3 linked regions of the Homo sapiens genome follow. The protein of the gene in region 1 interacts with the protein of each later gene in a biochemical or structural test. Each region holds a gene or a part of one and is shown on either strand. Other genes may lie near its edges. The genes, in order: PHF2, NR1H4 and HNF4A.

Evidence for each region.
Region 2: the proteins of PHF2 (region 1) and NR1H4 form a complex in vitro, tested with the Homo sapiens proteins (one study listed by IntAct).
Region 3: the proteins of PHF2 (region 1) and HNF4A form a complex in vitro, tested with the Homo sapiens proteins (one study listed by IntAct).

The regions. Positions count from the first base shown.
Region 1 is NC_000009.12:93,670,520-93,677,652, reverse strand, and holds part of PHF2 (lysine-specific demethylase PHF2), read right to left. Parts: exon of another isoform or gene 6,595-7,133; coding exon of another isoform or gene 6,234-6,594; intron 6,164-6,233; coding exon of another isoform or gene 4,548-6,163; exon of another isoform or gene 4,075-4,547; intron 4,069-4,074; coding exon 3,791-4,068; intron 2,727-3,790; coding exon 2,631-2,726; intron 1,974-2,630; coding exon 1,864-1,973; intron 1,060-1,863; coding exon 690-1,059; intron 66-689; coding exon 1-65. Other genes in the region: fibroin heavy chain-like, read right to left, coding at 4,548-6,163, 6,234-6,594. UniProt on the Homo sapiens protein: Lysine demethylase that demethylates both histones and non-histone proteins. Enzymatically inactive by itself, and becomes active following phosphorylation by PKA: forms a complex with ARID5B and mediates demethylation of methylated ARID5B.
Region 2 is NC_000012.12:100,476,799-100,483,931, reverse strand, and holds part of NR1H4 (bile acid receptor), read right to left. Parts: intron 1-7,133. UniProt on the Homo sapiens protein: Ligand-activated transcription factor. Receptor for bile acids (BAs) such as chenodeoxycholic acid (CDCA), lithocholic acid, deoxycholic acid (DCA) and allocholic acid (ACA).
Region 3 is NC_000020.11:44,400,599-44,407,731, reverse strand, and holds part of HNF4A (hepatocyte nuclear factor 4-alpha), read right to left. Parts: exon of another isoform or gene 6,360-7,133; coding exon of another isoform or gene 6,245-6,359; intron 5,179-6,244; coding exon of another isoform or gene 5,088-5,178; intron 1,675-5,087; coding exon 1,500-1,674; intron 352-1,499; coding exon 257-351; intron 1-256. UniProt on the Homo sapiens protein: Transcriptional regulator which controls the expression of hepatic genes during the transition of endodermal cells to hepatic progenitor cells, facilitating the recruitment of RNA pol II to the promoters of target genes. Activates the transcription of CYP2C38.

The sequences.
Region 1 (7,133 bases):
ATGAATTTTCAAAATTTTCCCAAGCCTCTGCTTGGCGGTCGCCATGCCCTTTTTCGTACGTTTTCCTAGGGGAGTCGGGGAGGGGACACAAAAAGGGAAGGTAAGCTAGATGGCAAGGGGCGTGGCATGCCGGTGGGGGGGAGGGTCCCGCTGACACTAAGGGGCAGCCTGCAGTCCCCCATCTGTAAAATGGGCCTATGAAGCCCCAGCTCCGAGCTCAGCACCCTTCAGGAGTCTGGGATCACTGGCAAAGCCTCCGCCTCAGAGGCCGTGTCCTCAAGGGGCCCTGGCAGGTAGGATGGACATGGGCTTGGGGATGGCATTATGAGGAGGACATGAGGATGCCTGGGCACCACCCCCAGTAACAAGGCCAGGAGCCACTGCCAGCACCCCGTGCTGCATCACTCAGTCCCCACAGCTGGCCGGCCCCACGGCTGGGGTGCAGGGGTGCAGGCAGATCAGGGGCTGAGCACGCCCACTGAGCAGAAGGATGAAAGCACACGTCCTGTACTGTGGGATACGCTCACACAAAGATGCAACCAACTTGGACCACAGCACCCTGCCACCCAAGGCCCAGGAGCCCTCCCAATGTGCTGCCCTCTACCATGGGCCGAGTCTGCATGTCTGGGGCTGCCCATGGGGGCAGGCAGGGCAGGGGGGCTGCAGGCTCCCTCCAGCAGGCACAGTACCTTTGGCAGCGGTGTTGTTGTTTGGAGACGATGCGGAGGGCCGCCTCTGTGTGAGAAAGACCCCAGGGGCCATGGGCTGGGAGGTGCGGCCAGCCTGGGCCCCGGTGAAGGTGCCAGCGGCTGTGTACTCATGGTCCGCCAGGCTGCTGCTATGCGACTCAGGCGGGGGCTCTGGCGAGCTGCCCTCCTGCGAGGCCTGGCTGCTGGCCGTGCTGGTGGAGGCCGGGGTGGTGGAGGCCGGGGTGGTAGAGGCTGGCGTGGTGGAGGTGGAGGTGGTGCCGGCAGAGATGGAGGTGGAGGTGGAAGGGGAGGTGGTGTTAGGAGTCAGCTTCCTCTTGGCACTCTTTTTTTTCTTGCTTTTCTGCTCCTCCTTTGAACAAAACATGCAGGGCAGCCTCAGACGCACAGCCCACTTGGGCCAACAGAGCAGGGAGCTCCCGGCATGGCCTTGCCAGGGGCCCTTGAGCACAGCAGGGCTGGGCAGCAGGGGCCTGAGGCCTGACTCTGGGCCGCCAGGGGCACAGCATGCACACGGACAGGGCGCCAGCACCCACAGCAGCTGCCTGGCCTCCCTGTCAGTGTGAGTTAACCTAGCAGTTGAGCCTGTAGGATGGCACTCCTACCCCATCACCCCACTCAGTGGCCATATACATCTCCCAGTTCTGGAAGAATATTCACTTTGATCCTAATAACTTCCTTGTGTGCCCAGATGAGGTTGGGCCTGGTTGGGAGGGTATGTGAGGCTCTAGGACCCTCCATTTCTGAGCTGGGAGGAGCTAAAGGTGGGAGATGAGATTTTTAGGAGCATGTAGAGACAGAACACCTCATTTCCCAACTGAGGACAACTCAAAAACACCCACATGATGGGGGGAGGGGAAGGGGAGCTCCCTCCAAGCTGCTGTTGTACCAGAGAGTAGCCCAGCCTTGGCACGAATAGGGCTGTCCAGTGTCAGGGCCCCAGTCGTCAATTCCTAGCTCCCCCGGACCCCACACGGGGAATTTAGGGCCTGGAGGAATAGGGCACTCTCTAATCAAATGTCCCCAAGCCTGTGACCACCCCTGGCTCAGTGGGTCTGTGTATGGGGTGGAGAAACAGGTGCCTTGGGGAACCTGAGCCCACCAGGTGGGGGTAGCAGGGACCTGGCTGCCGTGTGTCCTTCTCGCCCCTCCTCACCTGCTGGGACAACTTAGCTGCAGCAGCCGCCAGCCCGGTCTCGATGGAAGCCACCCGTGTACCCTCACGCACAGGCCTGTCCTGTCTTGGCACCGATGGGCCGACCCTTGCTGTGGAAAAGAAGGGCCAGCCCCCTCAAGCTGTAGGCCACAGCCTGTCCACCCCTCCTGGTTTGGGGCTACCCTGCCCCCACCCCAGCCTGTCCCCCTGGCCAGGCAGGCCTAAGCACAGGGATTCCTGGCTGTGAAGCCGCCTCACAATAGGGCAGGGTCAGCTGCCCCACCCAAGGGGGAAGATGCCACAGTGGGGTTTGCATGGGGCAGAGCCCAGGAGGCCCAGCAACATCAGAGTCTGGGCAGGCGGGTGAGGGTAATGTGGAAGGTGGACAAGGCCTCACCCCACTGGCTGCCCCAGCAGGTGTCCCTCAGCCACCATCAAGTGGGTGCCTCCGGTACAAAGGTGACCCTCACAGAGCTGCCCATTGAGGAAGAAACCAGAGAGGAGCCAGCCAGAGGAGTGAGGGCTTTTGAGTTGGGGCTGTGTAGAAGCACATCTGGGCTCCCAGGCCCCCAGAAGCAAAGCAGAAGTGAAGCCCACGGCACTCCTGCAAGCAGCTGACCAACCCCAGCGGGACGGGCTGCCCAGCCCTCAGGATAGGACAGGTGCAGAGCTGAGCCCACATTCTCAGGGGCTGGAGGGACCACAGACAAAGTCACAGCTTCCACACTGGGTGTCAGGTGGACCCCCTACCCCTGTCCCAGCACTACCTGTTGGGCTGTAGGGAGCGTCGTCTGAGCCTTTCCTTTTCTTCGACCGGGACTTAAAGATGGGGTTGTCTTCATCTGACTCCAGTGAGGGGTAAACTAGAGGGAGGCAGAGGGAAGGCGTGGCCCGCTGAGTGCAGGGCAGGTCCACGGAGGAGGGCGGGGGGGTACAGGTGGCTGCAGACCTTCCTCGCCAGCAACCCCAGGGCCTACACTAAGGCCTGCCACGCTGTGTCACTGTCAGCTGTGATGGAAGCTGCCCATGGTGAGGACACCCCAGGCATGGGCACAGGCCCCAGAGATTATCCAGAGGGGCAGGGACTCTCCAGACAAGAAGGCACCTGCATCTACCTGCCCAGCCTCATCTGTGCAGCCTAGCCCCAGTGCCTGCAAGCCCCTGGCCTCTAAGGGCTGCCCTCCGTACATCTGTTCATGGAGCTTGAGATCCCCAGAGGCCCCACCTGGAGGAAGCTACAGCAGAGAGTGGGGAACCAGGGAAGGATGGGACCCCATAATCAAACTAGGGCATCTCAGTTCCTGCAAGAGAAACACTTTGAGGCTCCAGGAAAGGTTCTGTTTGGTGAAAACTCCTCACAACTCCTTCCGTTGCTATGAAAAGGGAAAACGTCTAACGTCCATGGAGGGTGGGCTCTGACAGCCCCCACCCTGCCTGGCGGGTCTAGGTGGAGGGGACACTGTAGGGCATGACCTGTGGCTGGTGGGGAGCTGCCCCAACACGGTGAGGCGGTGACCCTGTGACCCTCAAAAGCCAAGTGCCACCCTACACTCACTGCAGGTTGTGGTCCTTCAACCTCCGGGGCCTGTCGAGGAATGCCCAGGACCCAAGGTTCAGGAGGAAGCAAGATGGCGCCCGGTGCCACACACCTCCAGAGCCCAGAAAACAGGAGTTCACTTTGCTGTCATTCTGTTTGTCAAACTAGAGTAGGCCCCACCACGAAGCCCAAGCCTGTCCACCAGATGTGGGCCCCGGCCAGTCTCGCTCACAGGAGGGTCTCCGGGGACAGCAGTCAGAGGCCGAGGGTTTTGCTGAGCTGAGGCCTGCTGTAACTTGGAGAGCTGCATGTTTATGCTACTGTCTCCATTCTCAGCCAGGCCTTCTAGGGCTGAGCATGGGCCCTGCCCCACGCAGGAGTGACACTCACCGTAGTCTGAGTCCTTGAAGCAGGCATCCAGGTGGTCCTGCTCTTCCTCGTAGTCGTCCAGGTCGACACTGTTCTTGGCAGCCCTCTTCAGCAGTCGTTTGCCTGCACTCTTGCCACTGCCACCCCCATTCTTCCGGGCACCATGGGCAGCCAGCGAGCTCCCCTTGGCCTGGCCAGCTCCCCACGTGGTCTGCAGGCAGGAGTCGGAGGCCTGCAGGTTGGCCATGGACAGCATTCCCTGAATGGCTTCCTGTGTGCTGGGGGAGGCCGGGGGCTGGCTAGGGGCACAGAGAGACAGGCACTCAGCCCAGTGCTCTTGGCCTGCAGCCCAGGCACTTAAACAACAGCCTATGGCCTGCACAAACTCCTGCACAAACTCCTGGCCCAGGTGGCAGGCAGAGGGCGTGGAGCAGAGAGGGTGGCAGTGAGCTGATGACTTCTCCCTTGGAAGAGGCCAGCCACTCCCCTCATCCAGCTCTGCTCATCCACCCATATGCCACAGGGAGGGCTGGAGGCCTGGAGACAGAGATGGGCATGGAGAGGAGACGGAAGACAGCAGATGGGAAGGAGGGTCCAGACCCTCATATGGTCACGCACTGGTCTCTCACACCTTAAAGCCAGCAAGCCGACTCAGTGACCTTCCTCCTGCACCCCAGCCACTCTGTGTACCCCCTCGGTCCACCCTGTGCCTCTCTCCCAACTACAGAACTAGCCCTGGGCATTCCTTACCCCACTTTGTAGGGAACCTTCCCATGTGTCACCCTGAGATGGGGCAGCGTAGCCCACTCCCTCCCATGGCACACGCTTTCCCCAGTGACCTGCAACTTCTCTCCACACCCCCACCTTTACCCACACCTGCATCTGCACCTACACCCATACATGCATCTACACCTGCACCTACTCCTATACCCATACGTGCATCTACACCTGTACCTACCCTCACACCTGCACCTGCATCTACACCTGTACCTCCAACCACACCTGCATCTACACCTGTACCTACCTCCACCCCTGCACCTGCATCTACACCTGTTCCTACACCTACACCCATACATGCATCTACACCTGTACCTACTCCTATACCCATACCTGCATCTACACCTGTACCTACTCCTATACCCATACCTGCATCTACACCTGTACCTACTCCTATACCCATACCTGCATCTACACCTGTACCTCCAACCACACCTGCATCTACACCTGTACCTACCTCCACCCCCGCACCTGCATCTACACCTGTGCCTACACCCATACCCACACCTCCATCTACACTGGTGCCTACACCTACACCCATACCTGCATCTACACCTATACCTACCCCCACACCTGCATCTGCACCTGTACCTACACCCATACCTGCATGTACACCTGTGCCTACTCCCACACTCACACCTGTGCCTACTCCCACACCCACACCTGCACCTGCACCTGTGCCTACTCCCACACCCACACCTGCACCTGCACCTGTGCCTACTCCCACACTCACACCTGCATCTACACCTGACCCTACTCCCACACCCACATCTGCATCTACACCTGTACCTACATCCACACCCACACCTGCATCTACACCTGTACCTACATCCACACCCACACCTGCATCTACACCTGTACCTACATCCACACCCACACCTGCATCTACACCTGTGCCTACTCCCACACCCACATCTGCATCTACACCTGTACCTACATCCACACCCACACCTGCATCTACACCTGTACCTACATCCGCACCCACACCTGCATCTACACCTGTACCTACATCCACACCCACACCTGCATCTACACCTGTACCTACTCCCACACCCACACCTGCATCTACACCTGTGCCTACTCCCACACCCACATCTGCATCTACACCTGACCCTACTCCCACACCCACATCTGCATCTACACCTGACCCTACTCCCACACCCACATCTGCATCTACACCTGACCCTACTCCCACACCCACATCTGCATCTACACCTGTACCTACATCCACACCCACACCTGCATCTACACCTGTGCCTACTCCCACACCCACATCTGCATCTACACCTGTACCTACATCCACACCCACACCTGCATCTACACCTGTACCTACATCCACACCCACATCTGCATCTACACCTGTACCTACATCCACACCCACACCTGCATCTACACCTGTACCTACATCCACACCCACACCTGCATCTACACCTGTACCTACATCCACACCCACAACTGCATCTACACCTGTACCTACATCCACACCCACACCTGCATCTACACCTGACCCTACTCCCACACCCACATCTGCATCTACACCTGACCCTACTCCCACACCCACATCTGCATCTACACCTGTACCTACATCCACACCCACACCTGCATCTACACCTGTACCTACTCCCACACCCACATCTGCATCTACACCTGTACCTACATCCACACCCACCTGCATCTACACCTGTACCTACATCCACACCCACATCTGCATCTACACCTGTACCTACATCCACACCCACACCTGCATCTACACCTGACCCTACTCCCACACCCACATCTGCATCTACACCTGACCCTACTCCCACACCCACATCTGCATCTGCACCTGTGCCTACTCCCACACCCGCACCTGCATCTACACCTGTGCCTACTCCCACACACCTGCAACTACACCTGTGCCTACTCCCACACCCACAGCTGCATCTACACCTGTACCTACTCCCACACCTACATCCACACCTGCATCTGCACCTACACCTACCCCCACACATGCACCCCCACCTGCGTCTACACCTGCACCTACCCCCACCCTGCACCCCCACCTGCATCTACACCTGCACCTACCCCCACACCTGCACCCACCTGAACATAGACCTGCAGCTGCATCTGCACCTGAACAGACACAGCTGCACCTCAGCTCAGTCCAAGTTCACCCACTTCTGGCAGGCTCCACACAGACTCCCAGGCTTTCTCTTTGCCCTGTCTGCACCCCCGCTGCCCTCAGCTTCAGGTGGCCCCTCCCATAGCGCCCAGCCTGTCTCGCATCCGCATCCTCCTCCTCTGCCCCATGCCTATGCACACACCTCCTCCTGTCTACACTGGCTCCCCTCCTTCCAGAAGAATCTTCTGAGACACCCAGTGTGTGATCAGCCTGTCTAGGCTCACAGAGTGGTGAAATGGGGTGACCACTGTCATCCCACAGAACCAGGGGCTTGGTGCTGCTGGACAGCAAGGACCCCCAAGGCCAAGTCCTGGGCTCCTTGGGGACCTCCCTGCCAGGCCCTCCCATGGGATGCAGCCCTGGCCTCTTCACAGGGCCCTGCCCCACCGCCCACAACCCCCTGCAGCCAGGACCCTCACCTGTCTG
Region 2 (7,133 bases), on another chromosome or scaffold:
GTTCACTGCAATCTTCATCTCCCGGGTTCAAGTGATTCTCCTGCCTCAGCCTCCCGAGTAGTTGGGATTACAGGCATGCACCACCACACCCAGCTAATTTTTGTATTTTCAGTAGAGACAGGGTTTCACCATGTTGGCCAGACTGGTCTCAAACTCCTGACCTCAAGTGATCCACCCGCCTTGGCCTCCCAAAGTGCTGGGATTACAGGCGTGAGCCACCGCGCCTGACCTGGAAATATATTCTTAAGGAAAAAGAGAAAAGAGCTCTAGGAAAAGAAAAAACGTTTTATTTTTCCAAGTATTTGGTCTTCAAGCAGCACTCAAACTGAAGTTCTTTCCAGGACAGAAATACAGATTTAGAATAAATAGATACTTCCGAAAATCCAGAGACACGTCAAGGACAACATATGGCCAACAAGGATGGCTGCGAGCCAATATGACCATTGGACCACATCATTCTGAAGACAGTGCTCTATAAGAACCAAACAATTTTTATTACTATCTTAGTAACCACTACATAGATTTTTAGTGATAGATTAAAATAAAATTTAATATTTAAATTAACATTTTAATTAAATTTTTAATAATAGCATTCTCTGGATCATATCTATGATCAACTTATACTGATATTCAAACTAATCAACCTCAGTTTTGTTTGTGCCCATTAGCAGCAAGAAATATGACTTGTTTGTCAAGAACTATGACAGGCCAGGCACAGTGGCTCATGCCTGTAATCCCAGCACTTTGGGAGGCTGAGGTGGGTGGATCACCTGAGGTCAGGGATTTGAGACCAGCCTGGCCAACATGGTGAAACTCCATCTCTACTAAAAATACAAAAATTAGCTGGGCACGGTGGCACACGCCTGTAGTCCCAGCTACTTGGGAGGCTGAGGCAGAAGAATTGCTTGAACCCAGGAAGCAGAGGTTGCAGTGAGCCGAGATTGCGCCACTACACTCCAGTCTTGTGACAGAGTGACACTCTGTCTCAAATAAATAAATAAATAATAAAATACCTGCATCAACTAGATATCCACAGCTTTCAAAGCGTCTCTGCTCTCTGGAGCTTACACAATGGTGCCTAAACAACAGCTGACCTTTATTTCCAACTAGATGTAGAAGAAGCACCTGGAGTTGAGGCTTCCAGGACCAGGAACCTGGAAGTGAATGTCTTCTTAAATTTTGCACCCTCAGTGCCTCACTTGCCTAGCTCTAGGCCTAGCCCTGCTTCTCAACTCCTTGATTAGCACAAACTCCAGGAGACGTTCATAGCCCTGGGTACTTCTTCTTTGCAGTGGTGTTACCATTGTAATTCAACCTTTGTTTTTGTGGATTTGGTTTTCTGTGTCTCCCATTAAACCAGCAGCTCTAGGAGAGATTACATTGGATCTCCAATGCCTTGCACAATGCCAGCCAGGTACATCTTAGATGCACAATAAATTCTTGTTAATTGAGTAAATGAACAAATGGTTGCATGAATAAATAAAGTAACTAATACATAAATGAGTGAATGAATAATATACCTTACTAGATAACCACCTTTAGAATCAGTCTTGCTTAGGCCATAGGACAGAAATTAGTGAATAGAGGCATACAACACAATACACACAAGAGCCGAAGAAGGATTTTTTTTTTGTCACATAAAGAAATCTAACAACTAAGTCTGCTTCCCCACAATGTAGACTAATTAGTGAATGGTAACCATTTTTATTGGAAATCTCTTAAGCATAGGCTTTCCAGTCTCCCCATGGGAACCATTTTATACATGAGTTGACCACCCCAGGAAATTGTTTTGTTTTGTTTCAGGGTTTTTGTTGTTTGTTTGTTTGTTTTGAGACAGGGTCTCTCTCTTTCACCTGGGCTGGAATGCAGTGGTGCGATCTTAGCTCGCTGCAGTCTTGACCTCCCAGGCTCAAGCAATCCTCACACCTCAGCCTCCCAAGTAGCTGGGACTACAGGCATGCACCACTTGCCCAGCTAATTTTATTTATTTATTTATTTATTTTTATTTTTATTTTTTTGAGATGGAGTCTCGCTCTGTCACCCAGGCTGGAGTGCAGTGGTGCCATCTCGGCTCACTGCAAGCTCCGCCTCCTGGGTTCACACCATTCTCCTGCCTCAGCCTCCCGAGTAGCTGGGACTACAGGCACCCGCCACCATGCCCAGCTAATTTTTTGTATTTTTAGTAGAGATGGGGTTTCACCGTGTTAGCCAGGATGGTCTCGATCTCCTGACCTCATGATCTGCCAGCTTCGGCCTCCCAAAGTGCTGGGATTCAGGCATGAGCCACCGTGCCCAGCCCCAGCTAATTTTTTTAATTTTTTGTAGAGACAGGATTTCACCATGTTGCCCAGGCTGGTCTAGAACTCCTGAGCTCAAGCAATCTGCCCACCTCAGCCTCCCAAAGTGCTGGGATTACAGGAGTGAGCCACCATGCTGGGCCGGAAATAGTTTTAATTAATCTCGCGAATTTCCCGTTGTTAATTCTCTTCCATCAGAACTACCAGGAATAGTTTTGTTGTTGTGGTTGTTTGGTCTTCTTAATGTTCACTCTTCATAATCAGGAAAGTTTGTTTTTTCTTTTTTCGCATTATGTACATTAGTCAAAATGGTCAAGAAGCTATTTGTTGAATGCTTTCTCCGTGACTAACTTGTCATTTTTTTTTTCAAATACTTAATTGGATCTTTGAAATATTATGCCTCTTACTCATGGAAATTGTTTGCAAAGATGGCCACCACAATTGCTTCCTTTCCACACGCTCTTACAATGTGAGTTTGCCACACCTCTCATCAATGCACAAAGTCTGTTTCGCTAGCCCTTGGACCTGAGCTGGTCTAATAAATTCGTTGACCAACAGAATGTGGTGGAAGTGAGGTTGGGGACTTCTAAGCCAGGCTTTAAGAGACCTTGTAGCTTCTGTTTTCCATATCTAAGAAAGAATGCTGCCCTGAGATTGCCATACTGTTTGCAGATATCTCAGATTTAAAAATCTCATGGAGAAAGAAGTCCAGCTCTTCCAACTATCCCAGCTGACGGCCACATCAAGACCCCAGACATGAGTGAGGCCATCTCAGTCCTTTCATTCCAGTTGAACTCACATCTGAATGAGCAACATGAGTGAACCCAGGCATAACCAGCAGAGAAGCTGCTCAGCCGCCCCACAGAACTATGAGAATTAATGGATCATTCCTGTTTTATGCCACTAAGCTTTGGGATGGTTGTTACAAAGACATAAATGACTGGTATAGAAATCAGTACCTGGAAGTGAGATGCTGTCTAAAAAAACCGCTAACATATATGGCCTGGGCTTTGGGATTGGGGGATGATCTGAGGCTAGAAGGGCAGTGAGGAGACTGGTTAGTGGAAACTGGAAGAACAATAAGAAAATTCCCATAGGAGGTGGGAAGATGGGGGTCCTGTTTATAATCATGAAACAATCAGTAACACTGTCTCCTGTGGTAACTTGGAAGATAGAAATGTTTCTAAACTTATAGATCTAAGATTTCCCACTAGTACGGTGGATGTGTCAGTTGGTCTCTTTAGCTATGTGTGATAAGGTACTTACTCTTTAAAAACGGCATCTCAACATCAATTTCCCATTCATTCACTCATTTATTTTGTCAGTGCACATTTATTGACAGACACTAGACATAGTAAAAAATAATGATTTTTCAGAAAGCTTAGTGGAAAAGTCAGGCAAGAAAAACCCAATGGTAGTAGTGTGAGGATTGCTACAACAGAGCTAAGCACAGGTGCCATCAGGAGCACAAGCAGGGACATTCATTCATCCAATATTCATTAATTCTCTACTACATACCAAGTTTCGGTCTAGGTTTTAGAAATACAGTGGTAAGACAAAGAGCTTACATTCTAGAGGGATAAGTGAATAATACACAAGTCAACAAATAATAGGATTTCTGATGAGGATAATAAGAAAGTAAAAGAGAAGTATAGAGTGTTGTAGTTGAACACAGTTTTGGAGAGGGCAATCAGAGAAGAGCTCTCTGAAAAGTGGACATTCGAACTGAGATGTGAAGGACAAGAATGAGTAAGTCATACAAAGGGAAAATAAGTTCAGGCAGAGTGATCAGCAAAAGCAAAGGGCCTGGGCTTGGAGTGTTGGAAGAACAACACAAGCCCAGTGAGGCTGGAAATGAGTGAGCCAAGGAGGGGCTATAGGAAATGAGGTCTGAGAGTAGGCAGCTCTTGTATGGCCTGTTGGCCATGGTAAGGAGTTTGGATTTTCTTCTAAATGGAAGTAATTGATGAGTTTTAAACAAGGGTATAGTGAGGAGAATGAGGGAAATCTTTCTGAGCGTGGAGGGTTGATTCTTGAACTTAGTCTTGAAGGAATAGGCATTAGGCTAGGAAAATGACACGCAACAGGGATGGCTATAGGAAGGGAAAATAGCATGCTGTGTTCTGAGCAACCCTAAATAGTTGTCTATGCTGTAGCTAGTGGACTCAGCTCAAATCAGTGGAAGAAGGATGACCTATTCAAGAAATTGTGGCAAGAAAATTGCCTATGCTTTGAGGGTAAAAATAAAGACATCTTTATGAATCATTCTTGGAAAATACATCTCAGATGGATTAAAGACTGAAAATTATAAAATTATTGGGAGAAAATATATTTATGATCTTTATGGATTTGGGGATTGAGAAGGACTTTATTAAATAAGAAGTAAATAGGAAAAGAATACATTTGAGAACGTTGAAATGTAAGACAGAGGTTAAGGCATCACAAACAAAGCTAAATATATAAAAATGGATAAAAATATTTACAACATAAATAACACCAAAAATATTAGTACAAACAATATATAAACGATTCCTATAAATAAAAACAGAAAGGATAAACAACCCAAGAGAGAAATTGGCAAAGGATACAAAAAGGAAATTCACCAAAGTGGAAACACAAGTGGCCAGTAAACACAGAAAATATCTGAAACTAATAATAATTAGGAAAATGGATATTACTATAACTAAATACCATTTTCACCTATGAGATTATCAAAAAATTTTAACTTTGATAATATTCAAAGTGTATGAAAATATGCATTCTCACATATTGCTAGTGGGGGCATAGGTTTTAGTCTTTTTGGAGGGCTCTTTAGCAGTGTATCTTAAAATAAAGTGCAATTTTAATTCCTAGGTATCTTTCCTGGAGAAATCTTTGCTGGTATGCACCAGGATGTTCATTGTAGCATTGCCTCTAATGCAGAAAGAGGGCAAACCACCTAAAAAACCATCAACAGTGGAATGGCTAAATGAACTGTGCTCTATAGTATCAACTATTAGGAAGTGGTTAAACAAGATTAAAGTGTTTTGATATGTATTAACATTGAAACAGTGAAGTAGAGGAGAATAGGGCTAGGGGAAGGTCAAAAAATATTTTAGACTTATTCATAATGTTGAAACTTTTAACACAATGACTACATTAAGATATGTCAGTCTCCTAGGGTATCATTTCCTGTCCTCAACTTTGCCAATTATATAATCAGATGCTATAAGCAGGTATATTTAGATTCTCCAGAAAAGAAGGGTTTGCTTCATTTTCTTAAAACAATTTTAGGATTGTGCAGCATTTTTGAGCTTCAACAAAAATTATAAACCTCTCTCTAGGAAAGACATACACAAAATACAGATATTTTTCTAAATTAATAAATGTTTAGGAGAAATTTTATGTTCACTATAAAATTGAACAAAATGTATGGAGAGCCTCCATATACGTCTTCTCCCCCACCCCCCACACACATGCACAGCCTCCTTTACTTTCAACAACCAGCACCAGAGTGGCACATTTTTTTACAATCGATGAACCTATGCTGACACATCTTTATCAGCGAAGGACTATAGTTTACATTAGGGCTCAATCTTGGTGTTGTGTATTCTATGGGTCTTGACAAGTGTATAATAACATGTACCCACCATTGGTAATATCATATAGAATGAATTCACTGCCCTAAAAATTCTCTGTAAAATGCATAGATTTTTAAATGTAGTCTTAAGTGACCCTGGCCCCCTGAAGCCCAGCTATAGCCTCAGATTCAGAGTCGGGACTCCAGGAGAGCAAGAATCTTTTACATGACCACTTTGGAATGACATTTCTTTGTCCTGTCTCTGCCCTGCAAATTCTGGATGGCAACCAGCTTTTGCTCCTTAAGCCCCAGGCTGGTATCAACTTGTCGTCTACACTGGCAGCTTCCATAACTCTCTAGGACATGGCAGCAAATAGCTCTCTGCTTAGGAACAGTCACAGCCCAGAGCAGTGTTTTTGTTTTCTCTAATCAGCAACATCCCACAGCAGGACTATCTTCTCCATGCACAACTACATTATTTACCATGTTTTCCAGATAACTGTGTTAAATATATCTACAGGACTTGAAAATGCAAAGCCATACCATTTCTCCTTTTCTTTACATTAATAACATTAATTAAAGTGTAATAGACCCAGGTTGTCTCAGGTTCATTGAGACCTGGGAAAGGTCATCTAAATCTCTTTAAAATGGGAAGCAAAATCTCAAAGTTTTGTTAGGATTTTATATTAAAAAATGAAAATTAATAAAAATTTATTTTATATTTATACTTATTTATTTTAATCACCAGAACCCTGTTATATTTCTTAATCCTAACAAAGAATAAATCTTATTTTTTTTCCTGTGCAATATTTGCAATTTTACTTTGCAATCAAGTTGCATTATATTAGTGTCATCTTATCACCAATTTACAAAGCAGAGAGAGTAGGAATAGTAGATGTTCTTTTATGGCCAAAATTGGAAATGGGCAAACTGAGGGAGAAAATAATTCACTGTGAAGAGCAAAGGGGTTAGGGGATTCCAGAGCAGGGTGAGAGAAGGGAGAGAAAAGACAGAAGGATGAATATTTGTATGTAATAATGATTTTTGCCTCCTCATACAGCTTGGTGACTAAGGACACTCGTATGGTGATGCCTTTTAGCTACATCTTCACTGGTAGAAACTACTGTGACAATAAAAAAATACCTGGGAGGAAAATTGTTCCTATTTCTTATTTTTTAAAAAAAATTTTGAGGTGGTGTCTCTCTATGTTACCCAGGCTAGAGTATAGTGGCATTATCATAGCTCACTGCAGCCTTGAACTCCTGAGCTCAAGCAAT
Region 3 (7,133 bases), on another chromosome or scaffold:
CAGGCAGGCAGGGGTGGTGGTTGCTGGGAGCCTGAGGAGCCAAGAGTGGGAGCTTATCTCTCTGAATCTTTCTCAAGACCAAGCCCAGCCGCTCCCTATGGTCAGATTTCCAGGCCCTCCCTCTTCTCAGCCATTAGCCAGTCACCCTGGGGCCTGCCACTGAGTCATAAAGTGTGGCTACAGTTGTAAATGACTGTCGGGGAGCTGTGGGTGCAGGTGGGGCAGTGGTGGTGGGGCGGGGAGGGCCGAGGCTCACCTTCCTTCTTCATGCCAGCCCGGAAGCATTTCTTGAGCCTGCAGTAGCGGCACTGGTTCCTCTTGTCTTTGTCCACCACGCACTGCCGGCTAAATCTGGGGAGGGCTTTGGATGGTTGGATGGAGAAGACACAACTTCCTCCTCTTAGGACAGAACTAGGGCCCTGGCTATCCAGTTGACCCCCCAACCTCAGTGCTCTCATCTCTTCATCCCGGGAGTTCTCTCTTGAACCCACCAGGAGCTGGAAAGGTGCTATGAACTCTCTAAGAGCCCAGTCCTGTCCTGCTAAACATGGGAAAACTGAGGCTCAGAGAGGCAACATGTGGTCCTGGGTCGCTCTGCTGGTTGGTGTTAGAGCTGAGTTGGGAACCTTGACCTCTGGAGTACCAGAGCCCTGCTATTTCCACCACATCCTATAAAAGCTCAGAACCCATAGCAGGCTCCTGGTTATGGCTCAGAGTTAATACTCGGTTCACATAAGCCTCTCTCTGGAGGGGGATAGGAAGTAGAGGCAGTGCCACACCGTGGTGATGGGTGGGGCCCTGAATGTTAACCCTGGCTCTGCCAGTGATTCAAGCTGGTTGACCTTGGGCAAATGCCTAGCCCTCCAAGCCACAGCTTCCTCCTCTATAAAATGGGAATAACAACAGTAACCATCTCACAGGGGTGTTGACAGGTGAAATGAAGTCATGCGCCGATGGGGCACAGTCTTTGTACATGACAAGTGCTCGCAATTGACAGCTGCTATGATTTTATTATTGTCATTACCCAGAACAGGAGATGCTTTCGAAAGAGGGCTCTCCAAGGCCTTGGGAAGACTTTGGGGTTGGTGGAAGCCCCTGGGGTAGGTGGAACGGCCTGGGGTCAATCTCCTATTTGTCCCAAAAACAGCACCAGACTGGAAGACGGGCTCATCTACTGAGGCTTCAGGAGAGGCCCCATGGAATGGGAAAAACAACAATGGGCTCAAGGGGATGGGTAAATACACACAAAGACTTAGTATTGTGCCTGGCATATGATAAGAGCTCAATAAACGGCAGCCAGTAGCTTGATGATCAGTAAATGTGGTTCCTAGAATAGATGCTCTTCTTGGATTCACAAAGTCTTTTACAAAACCAGAAGAGCCTTGAAGGCCCTGAAGGGCAGCTGTCTCTGGGACCTACCCACTCAGGGAGAAGACAGACCTTGGGGCCATGAGCCCAAGTGTGCCCATTTCCCAGCTGAAGAAATTGAGGCTCCTCACCTGCAGGAGTACATGTGGTTCTTCCGCACGCTCCTCCGGAAGAAGCCCTTGCAGCCGTCACAGCTCGAGGCACCGTAGTGTTTGCCCGTGGCCCGGTCCCCGCAGATGGCACACAGGGCGCTGACACCCAGGCTGTTGGGCGCGTTGAGGTTGGTGCCTTCTGATGGGGACGTGTCTGCGCCAGGAGAGAAGGGAGTGAGGCTTCAGGAAGAACAGAATGTCAGGCATCTAAGGGAGCCTTGCGGGGATCTCTCCAGGGCTTCGGCCTCAGCCAGATCTGGGGGCTGTTCCCACTCCATCACCTCCCCACTCAGTGACCTCCTGACTTTTTGGAGCTTCAGTTTCACATCTGTAAACTGGGGCTGGTTGTGACTTCACAGACTTGTTTCTGAGGGTCTGCGTCTTCCTGTGGTGGAGGCCACGAGCCCCAGCTTTCTCTAGGAAGGCATGAAAACCTGGCCACCTTCTGGGGTGGGAGCCGGCCTCCTAACTCGCAAGGGGGCTGTGGAAGGGAGAAACATTCCCCTGCATTTTCCCCAGAACCAGGTCCTGTCCCTCAGTTCTTGCCAAGGGACCAGGGCTGGGTGGATCTCAGCTTGTGTGCCCAGGGGCCCCGCAAATTCTCTGAGGAACGAGAAAGACTTGGGCCGAGAACAGTCACACTCATGTGGCCTCCTAGGAGGGTCTGGACACATCTCCCATCCCTCCCATCCCACAGGCAAAAGCTACTGCATCTACACAAATGTGAGGGGGGCCGTAGAGGCAGGTGGAAAGAGGATCTTGGGCTGGGTGCCAGGAGTCCTGGGCACTACTGCTGATGCTGCCACTAACTCGCCTGTAAACTTGGGCAACTTCGCTTTCCCTGCTTCAATTTCTTCTGGGCCTCATTTTCTCTAACCATAAAAGGCAGCAGTTTGACTGGTCTGTTTCCAAATTTAAAAAATTTAAAAAATTTAAAAAATTTGTTTCCAAATTTAAAAAAATAGCAGCAGCTGAACCCCCTTTATTTGTCAGCAAATCTTTCAGCAAAGATAGACCCCTTTGAAGAAGATGACAAATGCAATGGGTCAGCCCCCGGGAAAATGCAAGCGTGTGTGCCACACAGTCCACACACACGCACACACGCTACGCACAAGCACACACACGCACCACACAGTCCACACACACGCACCACACAGTCCACACACAAGCACACACACGCACCACACAGTCCACACACACGCACACACCACACACAAGCACACACACACCTTACACACCACAGTCCACACACACCACACAGTTCCCACACACGCACACACACCACACACAAGCACACACACACCACACACACCACAGTTCACACACACCAAGCAGTCACACACACGCGCACACACACCACACAGTCACGCACACACACACCACAGTTCACACACACCACACAGTCCACACACCACACAGACACACGCACACACACACATATATACACACATGTGTACACATACAGTACACACACATGAACACAGAGTCCACACATAAGCACACACACGCTCCACACACATGCACACACATACACACAGTCCACACATGCACACAGTCCACATACATTGCACACACTTGCACATAGTCCACACACATGCATACATACAAACACATCAACACACACATATACAAATGTGTGCACACATACAGTCCACACATATACATACACATACACACAGTCCACACACACATGCTCACATGCACAAACATACACACATACACAGACACACACACACACACGTGTATTCATAGAAATCCTGAATCCAACCTTGGATTCCTCAGGGGCATCCAGTTAAGACCCAGAGAGGGCCATGCACTGTAGGTAACAGCACAGCCTCTGAAGTCCTTCTGCCCAGGGTTCAATTCCAGCTTGCCCACTTTTTAGCCGTGTGACATTGACTGTGTTCGTTTACTTCTCTATGCTTTTGTTTCCTCACTTGTAAAATGGGGAACGTGATATTCCCCTAGGTTCGTTATGGGGATTCGGTGAATTCTCATATGTGTATGTGAAGTGCTTGGCACATAGTAAGCACTATATCAGTGTTCATGAAATAAAAACTTTTCCACATAGGAAAACTCTCGGAGCAGAGGACTTCCAGGCTCCTTGCACAAGCAGACACTGCCGCATCTCATTTCTGCCATCGCAGACTCCCAGGTGTCCCCAGGAGTGCAGCCCCCTCCACTTGGTGAATTATTCCTGGAGATGGGGATAATTGTTAAGCCACGTGGGTGCCCTTTCTCCCTCGGCCTCTCCTCCCCCGACCCCCGGGGAGAGCTGACCCCCACAGCTCCTGGCCATTCAGCAGGAGGCTGGGGAAGTAGCTCCCACCTCTGAGGCAGGATGGGCTGGGGGCTGTCAGCTCTATCATCTCCCCTCTGAGGTCAGCCGAGCACCTCTATTCCACAGATGAGGACACTGAGGCTTAGAGAGGAAAAGTGGCTTCCTGGTGTCATCGCACTGCTTCCCGTGAAGCAGAGCCATGGGTTTATGGTCCAGGCTTGCTGGGCTACTCCAGCCAGTGCCACACATGTTGAGGTGTCTGCTGGGCCTCTAATGAACAAGGAGCCACCCAGGGCTGCTGCTCCATTGGGGTGGGGAGAGGACGGGGGAGAAATATCCTTGGAGCCTTTCAGACACCAGCCCAGGATGTACTCAAAACACTTCAGAGGACAACTTCACATAACCCCAATTCAGACCACTTCAAACTCCAGTGAGGAATGTGGGGACCCTGCTTACAGATGCTCAGAGCCCTTGAGATGACCCATGGTGGGGCCAGGCCCTTTACCAGGGCTAAGCACCCAGGCACCTCATCTTATTTATCCTCTGGCCAGCCCTGGGAGACAGACACTATTATTTATTCCCATTTTATAGGTGAGGAAACTGAGGCTCAGAGAGGAAATTGCCTTGCCACATTCACACAGGTTGGAAGGATCTATGCCGGATTTGAGCCCAGATCTTTCTGGTTCCAGAGCTGGAGGTGGTCTTGTCTTTGGGACTCCCAGTTCAGGGGCTTGGCCTCTGCCTCAGGAGCACACAGTTCCTGGGCTTGGAAAAAGTGATGGGGGCGGGGAGCAGCCCAGGGCAGGGCAGTGGTCCTCGTGGGGCCACACAACACTCCACCTAGTGCAGCAGCAGCTTGTTTGCTATCTCTGGTGTGTTTTTGCCTTGCGCTCCTGGCGTGGTCCTCAGACAGGCCTAAAAGCCGTCCAGCCAGCAGGCCTGGGGGAATGAAGCCTGTTTTGTAGAAGATACAGAAGCCAGGATAGGGGAGGTGACATGCCCAAGGTCACACGTGACTGGACGGCAGGGGCAGGTGAGCACCTGCTGAGCTGACAACAAGCAGTGCCCAGCAGCTGCCTCCTCACCCTAGCTGAGCTGACCACAAGATTCCAGACCTCAGCTGGAGCTGCAGCCTCATACTGGCTGAGTGGCTCCAAGACACAGAAGGAAGCAGGGTGGCAGGCTGACCTCAGCCAGCTGCCTGCCCCCTCTCCTCTGAGGCTGGCCTGGGACCGATGGGGCTCTTCCCTCCAGGAGGGGTTTCCGGGCCTCCTCTTTTCCCCTACCTCCCTGTGGAGAACTGTCCACCCCTCCAGATATGCTCCAGTGATGTCGGAGGGGATGCCTCAATCTGGCGAGACGCAGCGGCAACAAAATCTGCTCAGAGACAAACGGACATGTTGCTGATATGAATCTCACTTGGTGAGTGGCAACAACAGAGTCCTGCATTTGGGTCTGTGCAGTCGTGCACACCAGAGACCGCTGACCCCCGCCCGCAGCACAGGGAACTGCATATATACACAGCAGGTACAAATATGGGCACACGACAAAACGCCCATACAGGATAAAGATGCAGGAAGAACAGGGCACTCCAACAGGTCCGCATGCACAAACGCATGTGCTCTATGACCCGCACACACAGCACACATGTACAAACATCCACAGACACAAGTACACACACATACACACTTACATACATAAGCAAGATCAACACGGGCAACTCCTAAGACACAAACACAGACCCACTCAATGAATACAAAGGAAAATAGACCCAGAACTCACACACAGAGACAAATGAACACACATATGCAAATGGGTTCCTGAAGGCATCACCCCACCCATACAACCTACATGGAAACTCACTATCACACACGAACGCACACACAACACACACAGTGCTGAGTTGGCTTCGTAGTTAGCAAAACTTCCCTGAGAGCTCCATTTTCCCTAAGTGCCAATTTCATTTCCCTAGGAAAGTCCCAAAGACACCGAGAAATGCGGTTATGTCTCCAACCACCATCTCCAGGGATACAACATCCCTTGCCGTCTCTCTGAACCTAGGCCCAAGGGGTTCACGAAGGGGCCGTGCTGGGCTGAATCGCTGGAGCTGGGCACCAAGGGGGAGCTCACCATCACGTCACTGTGCCAAGCGCCAAGCAGAGCCACTGTGAGGCAGTGAGGACTGGAAGGGCCTGGGAGGAATAGCCGGGATCGACTTTTGCTGGAAATTGGCCCTTGCAGGCCTCCCTTCACCCAGAATGCCTGTGATCACTGTGCCTGGGCACATGGGCTTCACTTGGCAACACCTGTGCTGGCCTGTAGGACCAACCTACCATTTTGTATCATTCTCCTCCCACCCCAAAGTTGAGTGCCAAAGATCTGCTCCTGGACCCAGGCACACCTGCCCCCACTGGCACACCTGGGCACATCTGCCCCCACCTACCATTGCCCATCGTCAACACCTGCACATTCTCAAATTCCAGGGTGGTGTAGGCTGGGTCCAGTGCAGCACTGTAGTCGGCCATGTCCATGTCGACGAGGGTTTTGGAGAGTCGCATTCTCCCTGCCTCCACGCCGCGGCCACCTGCCCTACCCTGGGCGCCCACCCCGAAGGCCCCCGCCCTCCGCCCTCCCACTGCCTCCTCCCAGTGCCCTCTCTGCCTTCCTTTCAAACCGTCCTCTGGGAAGATCTGCTGGGAGTCTTGGCCTAGCCTCTGTGAAGGGGTGGAGGCTCTGCCGGGGAGGGGTGGGGGTTAATGGTTAATCGGTCCCCCGCCGGTGGATAGGCTGGGCGGGGCTGCAGGGATTTGGCTGTTTGTTGGTTTCTGGCTGACACCCGGGGTGCTAATTACAACTGCTGGGGCCCTAACTCACCGATGTTCAGTTATCAATTGTACAAGGCAGGCATCATGACTCACGGGCACTCATTTGACCCTTGACTCACCCACCCCTCCAAGCCATTGTCACCCCAAGTCAGGCATTCTAACTGATACTATCAGGCACTGACAGCCTACCTCCGAGATCCCCTAATTCAATAACTTCCCAAATCATTGACTTCTACCCTCAATGCTTTTGCAGAGATAAGGCTGCCCCATGGCCCACGATTTAGAAACCTAAATCCCAGGCCCCAGATGCCAATCTTCTGGATCCTTGTTCTGGGAGCTCCCTTCCAGTTCCCCCGCAGTTTCCCGGTTCCCCTGGGAGCAGAATGGACTGGAAGTTTGGGAGGGCCAGATTCACCTCCAATTCCCCGCTCCTGCTCCCTGTGATCCCACCCTGCCCCTCTCCGTCTCCCACAGCTCCCAGTGTTTCTGGCCCAGGCTGGCTCCATC